Regions from separate parts of the Homo sapiens genome. Here region 1 is linked to region 2. The links come from fine-mapping of genetic effects on gene expression. A gene starts in region 2. The other region holds a variant in brackets. All regions are shown on one strand. Distances are from middle to middle.

The links.
Region 1: its variant is fine-mapped to the expression of DCST2 in tibial nerve (GTEx, PIP 0.90).

Annotation. Positions count from the first base shown.
Region 1 is chr1:155,056,950-155,060,949 of GRCh38, reverse strand. It overlaps ADAM15 (ADAM metallopeptidase domain 15), which reads right to left. Exons shown (of 23, transcript NM_207197.3): 11 at 3,849-3,997; 12 at 3,588-3,762; 13 at 3,221-3,313; 14 at 2,795-3,099; 15 at 2,509-2,704; 16 at 2,163-2,240; 17 at 976-1,048; 18 at 607-745; 19 at 118-187. The region is part of intron 1 of DCST1-AS1 (DCST1 antisense RNA 1); the gene reads left to right. ADAM15-EFNA4 (ADAM15-EFNA4 readthrough) reads right to left here. Exons shown (of 26, transcript NR_176418.1): 11 at 3,849-3,997; 12 at 3,588-3,762; 13 at 3,221-3,313; 14 at 2,795-3,099; 15 at 2,509-2,704; 16 at 2,163-2,240; 17 at 976-1,048; 18 at 607-745; 19 at 118-187. Among named protein-coding and RNA genes, the nearest start is that of EFNA4, 4.8 kb to the left of the region's middle. RefSeq lists an enhancer at 3,403-4,000. The variant G/A (reference allele first, on the strand shown) is at 2,050.
Region 2 is chr1:155,031,690-155,036,199 of GRCh38, reverse strand. DCST2 (DC-STAMP domain containing 2) reads left to right here and starts at 2,419. Exons shown (of 15, transcript NM_144622.3): 1 at 2,419-2,766; 2 at 2,936-3,106; 3 at 3,432-3,533; 4 at 4,429-4,510. The coding sequence starts at 2,499. It overlaps DCST1 (DC-STAMP domain containing 1), which reads right to left and starts at 2,376. Exons shown (of 17, transcript NM_152494.4): 1 at 2,346-2,376; 2 at 2,103-2,228; 3 at 1,640-1,765; 4 at 1,473-1,547. The coding sequence starts at 2,163.

The DNA.
Region 1 (4,000 bases), 25 kb before region 2:
ACTCTTGGGCAGTGCTAGCCTTTCTCTGAGTCTGGAGCCTTTAATGCGCACCCCCCAGGGCCCAAGCTGGATGCCCGGCCAAGGTGGAGTCCCCTTCCTCTGGCATCCAGGACTCACCTTAGTGCCTCGTGCCAGCAGGGCCCTCTGCGGAGGTCCTGGCCGTTCAGAGGGACCAGATTGGGCTGCCCTATGCATGAGGAAAGGCAAGAAGGGAGAGGGCCCAGCCTCAGACCCTGTTTTCTACCATATGCCATCCCTGAGTGGGGTTAACCCTTTGCAGGCACTTATGTGTGGTTTAGGTAAAATTGTGGTAGGGCCGGGGTGGGGGGCAGTATTTATTAGCTTGAGGGAAGACCCTACTTATCCAGCACAGGGGCTCCTGGGGAGAAATGGCCCTAGCAATCCAGCCACCCCACAGGGGCACAGCTGTGAGGTAAAAAGCTGTGGGCACATATAGGGAAGGGAGGTGTGGGGTATGGCAGTCAGCAACTTTAAGGTCCAAGGGGCCTGGGGCTCAGAACCAGGTGGCAGGGGCTGCAGAGGTGAGGCAGCCTTCAGCACTGTCCCCAGTTGAAGGAAGTGGTAGCAGGGAGGTGATGCTCATACCTGTACTGGCAGGTGGGTCCCTTGAGCTGGCAGAGTCGCTGGTGCAGGCGGGCACGGTACCAGTAGCTGGCACCAAGCATCACCAGGACCAATAAGACCAGGAGGCTGAGGAGCAGCCCTGTGGTCAGGGAGCTGGTTGCTGTGGGCGGAAGTCAGGTTTAAGGGAGGACGGGGCTAAGAACTCTAGATCCATGAAGGCGCAGGGGGCAGGGAGTGAAGTCAAGTGATCAGGGAGAGTGAAGGGTTCAAGGGGCACAGACTCAGGGAACCAGCAGCAAAGGGGGGTCAGAAAGAGAGGGCCGAGGGGGCAAGATAAAGCATGAGACGCTTTGCCCTCCCAGCTGCCCCTGTCCCCCACCCCCATGCTACCTTTGAGCTGAGTGGTGCAGTCAGGGGGTGCCCAGCCCTCCTCACAGTAGCAGTGCCTGTTGCTGTCACAGACCTAGGAGGTACAAGGCGAGCAATGAGGAGCTCTGCACTCTGGAACTATTTCCTTGTCTCTAGCTTTTCAAGATCTCAGATTTCTACAACTGGGGGTTGTGCTGGGTATGTGTGTAGAGACAGCCCGGAGGGAGGGTCTTTATCCATACCAGAGCAAATTAGATCAAACTAACACTTACTGAGCTCCTTCTGTGTGCTGGGCACTGTGGTACATGCTTTCTTTCTTTGTGTTTGTTTTGTTTTGTTTTATTTTATTTTATTTTAGACAGCAAGTAAGATGGAGTCTCACTCTGTTGCCCAGGCTGGAGTGCAGTGGTGCAATTATGGCTCACTGCAGCCCCAAACTCCTGGGCTCAAGCAGTCCTCCTGCCTCAGCCTCCCAAGTAGCTGGGAGCATAGGTGTGCACCAGCAGGCCTGAATAATTTTTAAATTTTTCCTTGAAAGAGATGGGGGTCTCACTATGTTGACCAGGCTGGTTTTGAACTCCTGGCCTCAAGTAATCCTCCTGCCTTGGCCTCCCAAAGTACTGTGATTTGGCTGGGTGCAGTGGCTCACCCCTATAATCCCAGCACTTTGGGAGGCTGAGGCGGGAGGATCACTTGAGGTCAGAAGTTCAAGACTAGCCTGGCCAACATGGTGAAACCCATCTCTACTGAAAATACAAAAATTAGCTGGGCATGGTGGCGGGTGACTGTAATCCCAGCGAGTAGGGAGGCTGAGACATGAGTAATGTTTGAGCCTGGGAGGCAGAGGTTGCAGTGAGCCGAGATCACGCCAGCGCACTCCAGCCTAGGCAACAGAGCGAGACTCTGTCTCAAAACAAAACAAACAAACAAACAAAAAAACTGTGATTATAGGCATGAGCCATTGTGCCCAGCCTGTGCTAGATGCTTTCATACTCATCTCATGTACCCTGGATGGGGATACTATTATTATAGCCATTTGATAGGTGGGGAAACTGAGCTCAGCAAAGTTAGTAACCTGCCCGAGGTCACACAACT[G/A]GGAAGTAGTAGAGCAAGGATTAAAACCCAGATATGTCTATTTCCAAAGCCCAGTATCCTTTTCCTCTCTAGAGGCTCTCTGCTCCCCTTCCACTTCCCCCATCCCAGCTCACCCCATGTCCATGGCATTTGCTTCGACATTCCTGTGCCCCCAGGAGATCCACACGCTGGCATCGATGGTCTATACACACCTGACCCAGGGAGAGAAGAGCCTGGATCAGATTCCCACAAAGCTTTAATGGGACTGGGAGGCCAATAAGGTTGAGGCCATACCCTGCGTTTACAGATGGGGAAACCAAGGCATAGTGAGTTGATAGGACTTTGCTCCATCTGAAGTAAGAAACTGACTTCCCTTGGAGTCCCTGCCTTTGACATTGGTGAATGGTGAAGTCTGGGCTCTGTTCATTGTGGTCCAAATGTCCCTTCTCACACCTGGTCTTGCCCACCCAGGCTGCTCACCAGGCCAGGGCCACAGGCTGTGCCAGGCAGAGTCAGGAGGGGCTGGGCCACATCACTGCCCAGGTCCAGGTGCACCCAGCTGCAGTTCAGCTCAGTCCCATTCACATCTATTGTCTCCCAGAGTAGATCCCGGATGGAGCCCAGCAGAGGCTGGGTCCTACCTGTCTGGCACTGGAGCTGCCCACAAATGGCATCTCTGTGGGGAGGGGGAAGGGCACACAGAGTTAGTAGGAGCAGGGCCAAGGCTCTCAGAAACCCAAAGGAGGAGCCAGGTTTCCTCACTTACCTAGGGGTGCAGGACACATAACTGCCACTGGGGTTGCGCCCACAGCTCCCAAAAGCATTTCCCCGAGTATTAGCTGTCTGGAGGCAAAGTGGCGCAGCGGGCTGGGCTCCAGGTCCCCAAAGTGACTGGCACTGCTGGGCATAGGAGGCACAACGCCCGTGCATGCACACAGCTTGCCCGCCAGCGCAGGGCTCGCCATCCCCTAGGCTGACATCAGGGGGACACTGGGAGCTGTCTCCTGGGCAGAATTCAGGCAAGTCACAATCCCCTCTGGTAGGACGACACTGCCAGCCAGACGGGCGCAGCTGTGGAGGGTGGATGAGCATCAGTGTGGGCACTGAGCAAATCCAGCCGGGGGTCAGAATGACCCTTTCCACCTTGGCCCCGGCAGGTGAGCTCCGGGTGGCCAGTCTAGTCTCTACCCACCTGGCAATTTTGACAACAGGGTCCGTCAGATGCACACTGTGCACCTGGCCTCAGCTGGCAGGTCAAAGAATCACAGCAGGGATCGACGCAGTCCTGTGGGCAGGAGCACGGGGGCCGGGCATCAGAGCAGGTGGGGCCTGTGAGCCTCCCTCCAATCTCTCCTCCTCCCACAGGCCAAGACCAGAAGCTACACAGCAAGCGAGGGCTAGAGCCCAACAACCCATGTGCTGTCCCCACAGACAGGGCAAGTAGGAGAGGGGTGGAAAGTCCCTTCAGAACCCAAGAGCTCAGGAGGCTGGGATAGGGCTAATGAGCCAGGGTGAGGGTACAGAAGTGAGTGGGGCGAGGCTTTGGGAAAGGGGCTCACATCCAGGAAGCCACAGTCACACTGCTCGCCCGGCTCCACAAACATATTTCCGCAGAAAGCAGCCATAGGGGGTAGGCTAGGCAGCCGTTCGAAGAGGCAGCTGCCCATTCCATCCAGGAGGGCTTTCTCCAGGGCCCGTCGGCTGCAGTTGCTGAAGTTCAGGCCTGGTAGGAAGCTGGGGAGGGTGGCAAGGAAGGTTGGGGCTGGGGGCCTCTCCCTGCCCCCTGCCCCACACCCTCTCTCCATCCTGCAGCTACTTACTCTGTGGAGGCCTCCATGATGCAGGTCTTGGCTGGGGCTGGACCTGGACAGGGGCAGCTATTCCCAGGCAAATCATGGTCCAGGCCCAGGCTGTGGCCCAACTCATGGGCTATGGAGGAGGCGACTCCCAGGATGCTGGTGGAGTGGTCCTG
Region 2 (4,510 bases):
ACAGGTTCAGGAAAGGGCATGTGTTGCACGCAGTTCTGACCAAAGAGATGTGAGGAAGTCTACTGTGGGGATTATAGGCAAGTTTCCCTTGTTCCTAAAAAGAGACATGAGGAAAGGATGTTTCTTCCTTTTTTTTTTTTTTTTTTTTTTTTGAGACAGAGTTTCACTCTGTCACCTAGGTCATTTTCCTTTTTCCCTGGCCTCAAATCGCACAGCCCAAGACAGTGAAGTTGGGCCTGGGATTGAACTTCTATTCTTTTCTTTTTTTTGAGATGGCCTTTCGCTCTTGTCACCCAGGCTGGAGTGCAGTGGCACGATCTCCACTCACTGCAATCTCTGCCTCCTGGGTTCAAGCAAGCCTCCTGCCTCAGCCTCCCAAGAAGCTGGGACTACAGGTGTGCACCACCACATCCGGCTAATTTTTGTATTTTTAGTGGAGACAGGGTTTCACCATGTTGGCCAGGCTGGTCTCAAACTCCTGACCTCAGGTGATCCACCCGCCTCAGCCTCCCAAAGTGCTGGGATTACAGGCGTGAGCCATTGTGCCTGGCCTGTTTCTTCCTCTTTTTTTATTTTTTTCTGATCTTTGATATTATTGTATGAAGATGTGATGCCAGAGTTGCTGCAGCTATCTTGTGACCTGAAGAGAAGTGGTCAATAGACTGAAGATGGCAGAGAAAAGACAGAAGGAACCTGAGTCCTTCTCGAAGCTACTGAGCTGTTAAATTATCCAAACTGGGCTGGGCACGGTGGCTTACACCTGTAATCCCAGAACTTTGGGAGGCCGAGGCAGGTAGATCTTTTGAGGTCAGAAGTTCGAGACCTGCCTGGCCAACATACAGAAACCCCGTCTCTACTAAAAATACAAAAATTAGCTGGGCATGGTGATGGGTGCCTGTAATCCCAGCTACTTGGGAGGCTGAGCAGGAGAATGGCTTGAACCTGGGAGGTGGAGGTTGCAGTGAGCTGAGATTGAGCCACTGCACTCCAGCCTGGGCAACAGAGCGAGACTCCGTCTCAAAACGAAAACAAAAACATACAAACAAAACCAAAGCAAAACGGCTGGATGCTTGTCATCCTTGTTTACTGCTAAATCCTCAGCAGATTCTCAGTAAGTGCTGAGTGAATGAATGAATGAATGAATGAATTTAATTTCTTAGGAGGATCAGAAAACGAGGTCAGACAGGTCAGGAGAGATGAGAGTTATGAAGGGTTATGGGGTTGGACTATATCATGTGGGTGATGGGGAGTCCCTCGGAATGGAGAGACTCCCTCAGGGCAAGGACGGTGTCTTCCTTCTTAAATTGGCAGCCTCTTCCCTCTGGACCTCCCCGTAAAGCCCAGGAGGAGGCGGAAGCCACAGGGGATGTATGGGTACAGAAGAAACAAGTCCCGACTCCTTCCTGGGCATGCAGGACGGCGCTGTGTTCCACAGGCCGCTTGAGTGTTCCTGGCTTTTGCCCAGCACTAACCCACCAAGCTGTACAAGAACATAATCTTCTGTTCTTCGTAGATGTTCATGGGGTTCACCAGGAGCTGAAAGAGACCTAAGGGCACAAGGTCAAGCCAAAGGCCAAAAGATGGGTCCTAGCCCTGGTCCAGCCTCTGCCCACCCCGAACTTTCTGCTTCCACACTCACCTATGGCCAGGAGCCCCCCAGCGCCTGCCCCCAGCAGGAGAGCAGTGACAGGAAACTCGCCCGGCTGGCGCCACAGGAACCAGCTACAGGAGACTGGCAGCCCCCAGGTCAGGAGCCTCTGCACCGCTAAGAGGGGGACAGGGTAGCTCAACAGCCCACTCTTCTGCCTGGGATGGGGCTCATTAGGATTCAGGGCTTGCAGGTGGATAGAGGCTGGGGAAACCTGGCATGTGAAACAGTAGGAACTTAGGGGACCCTGGAGGAGGATGAGGGAGCCTGAGGAAGTGGTATGGGTGTAAGGGACAGCAAAGGCAAGGGCTGGGCTGGGAGGCGGGAGGCACTAGACCAGAGAGGTGGTGGAGGCGCGGACACCGAGTTGGGGGATAGTGTGCAGGAGTTCCAGGAGGAGAGATGGGATGAGAGTGGAGGTCAAGGGATACTGGGTCTCTGCTGAGTGACTCACTGGTATGAGGCTGTTTTCTTCTTTGCCCTCTTGTGCCATTCTGATGATGTTTAATGTCCATGAGTCTGTTTTGGGGAAGCACCACTCATCCCAGGTCTCCTGAAGGACCTCCTTGGACACAAGGTTCTGGTGAGAGAAGAGAGGTGCTGCCTGTCTCTTCCGCTTCATGGGAAGCCTAGGCCTGAGCTCTGGGCCTTTTAATCCTTCTGCTCCGAGAAGTGGGGAAGGAGATTAGAGACCTACCTATCCCCTCTCCAGTCCTCGGAACTGGGTCAAGGATTCCAAGACATATGCAGTGAAAGCCCTTTGGAACCTTAGAATACGGTGAGAAATTCCAGGAGCACAGAAGTCAGCGGGCATCTCCTGGAGACAGGCAGACATTTGGTCTCAGCAGCCATGCCCAAAGTCATGAAGGATGTTGTGCACCCCTTGGGGGGAGAGGAGCCTAGCATGGCGAGAGCTGTGGTTCGCAGCGTGGGAGGTTTTACCCTGGGCTTGTCTTTAGCCACGGCCTACGGGCTTCTGGAGCTACTGGTGGAAGGCCACAGCCCCTGGGGTTGCCTGGTGGGCACCCTCACTTTGGCTGCCTTCCTTAGCCTGGGCATGGGATTCTCTCGCCAGGTCCGAGCCACTGTCCTCCTGCTGCTGCCTCAGGCCTTCTCCAGTGAGCTTGGCACCCAGGGCTAGGGGGCAGGTCCTGGGGCTGGTGCTGGGGCAGAAGAGATGCTGGAGGAGAGGCAGGGGTTAAGGGAAATATTCTGAAGGCTTATGTAAGGGACTTGCTGCCATGTTTGGGGCTGGGGTCTTGGTTCTAACAAAGCTGTCGCCCCCAGGGCAGGGCCGGACACTACTGTTGGTGGCTGCTTTTGGGTTGGTGCTTCAAGGGCCTTGTGCCAACACTCTACGCAACTTCACCCGGGCCAGCGAGGCTGTAGCCTGTGGGGCAGAGCTGGCCCTGAACCAGACCGCCGAAGTGCTACAGAGGGCCAAGCAACCTCTTGTCAGTAAGTCCCCCACCTCTACCACTGTCTCCCACGGGCCCCCCTCGCCCCCCTCATCCTGCATGTTCTACAGTCCTTTGGCCTCCTTCTCTGCTGGTGCTAATCGCGGAGCATCTGGGCCTGGAAGGGACTCTGGGCACAGCTAAACCCTCTCTCCTTGCTCTCTGGCCTCCTCCACTCCCAGATTAACGATCTCCCAGGCCCCAGAATCCAGGCTTCCCGCCTCTGGAAATGGTGGCCTCCTCTCTACTCCCTGCTTAAGGGGCAATGGTGAGAACCAGCCCCTAGAGGAGAAGACTCCAAAGTGCCTCTGTCCCTCACCCATCAGGTGCCCTGAACAAGATTAAAGCTATTGCCCGGAAGACCAAAGAGGTGGCTGACCGGGTCCGCAAGTTCTTTCGGTCAATCATGGATGGTGTGAAACACATAGGTAAGCACATTAGCATGTCTATCCCGGGGACTCAAAATGCACCCAGTCCTGGCCGGGTGCGGTGGCTCATGCCTGTAATCCCAGCACTTTGCGAGGCCGAGGTGGGAGAATCACTTGAGCCCAGGAGTTTGAGACCAGCCTTGGCAACATGGCGAGACCCTGTCTCTATAAAAAATAAAAAAATAGAAAATAAATAAAACTAGCCAGATGTAATGACACATGTCTGTAGTCCCAGCTACTGGGGAGGCTATGGTGGAAGGATCTCTTGAACCCAGGGGTTTGAGGCTGCAGTGAGCTATGATCGTGCCACTGTACTCCAATCCAGCCTGGGTGACAGTGTGAGACTCCATCTCTAAAGAAAAAAAAAAGCGGGGGGGCCAGGTGCGGTGGCTCACACCTGTAATCCCAGCACTTTGGGAGGCTGAGGCGGTGGATCAGGAGGTCAGGAGATCAAGACCATCCTGGCTGACATCGTGAAACCCCGTCTCTACTAAAAATACAAAAAGTTAGCCGGGCGTGGTGGCACGCAGCTGTAGTCCCAGCTACTCAGGAGGCTGAGGCAGGAGAATCTCTTGAACCCAGGAGGCGGAGGTTGCAATGAGCCGAGATCACTCCACTGCACTCTAGCCTGGGCAACAAGAGCGAAACTCCATCTCAAAACAAAACAAAACAAAACAAACAAACAGAAACAAAAAAATTCAGTCTCCTCACCTGTACCCTGTCCAGGGTTTTTTGGGCCCCTTCTGGGCGCTGGCTAGTGTTCACTGGACACAGCACAGCCAGGTCCCTGACCACAGGCCTCTCCAGCCCTGGATACTGTGGTATTGTTCCCCAAAACCCTGAGAAGAGGCTGTAGGATTCCAGCCCTGGGTGCCAACCCTGCAGCTGTCCCCAGCCAGGGCTCTCCGGAATGTGTGGCAGTGGCTCCTGCACATCGGCGATGTGTGCAACTCGGAACTGGGCAACCCTTACCTGAA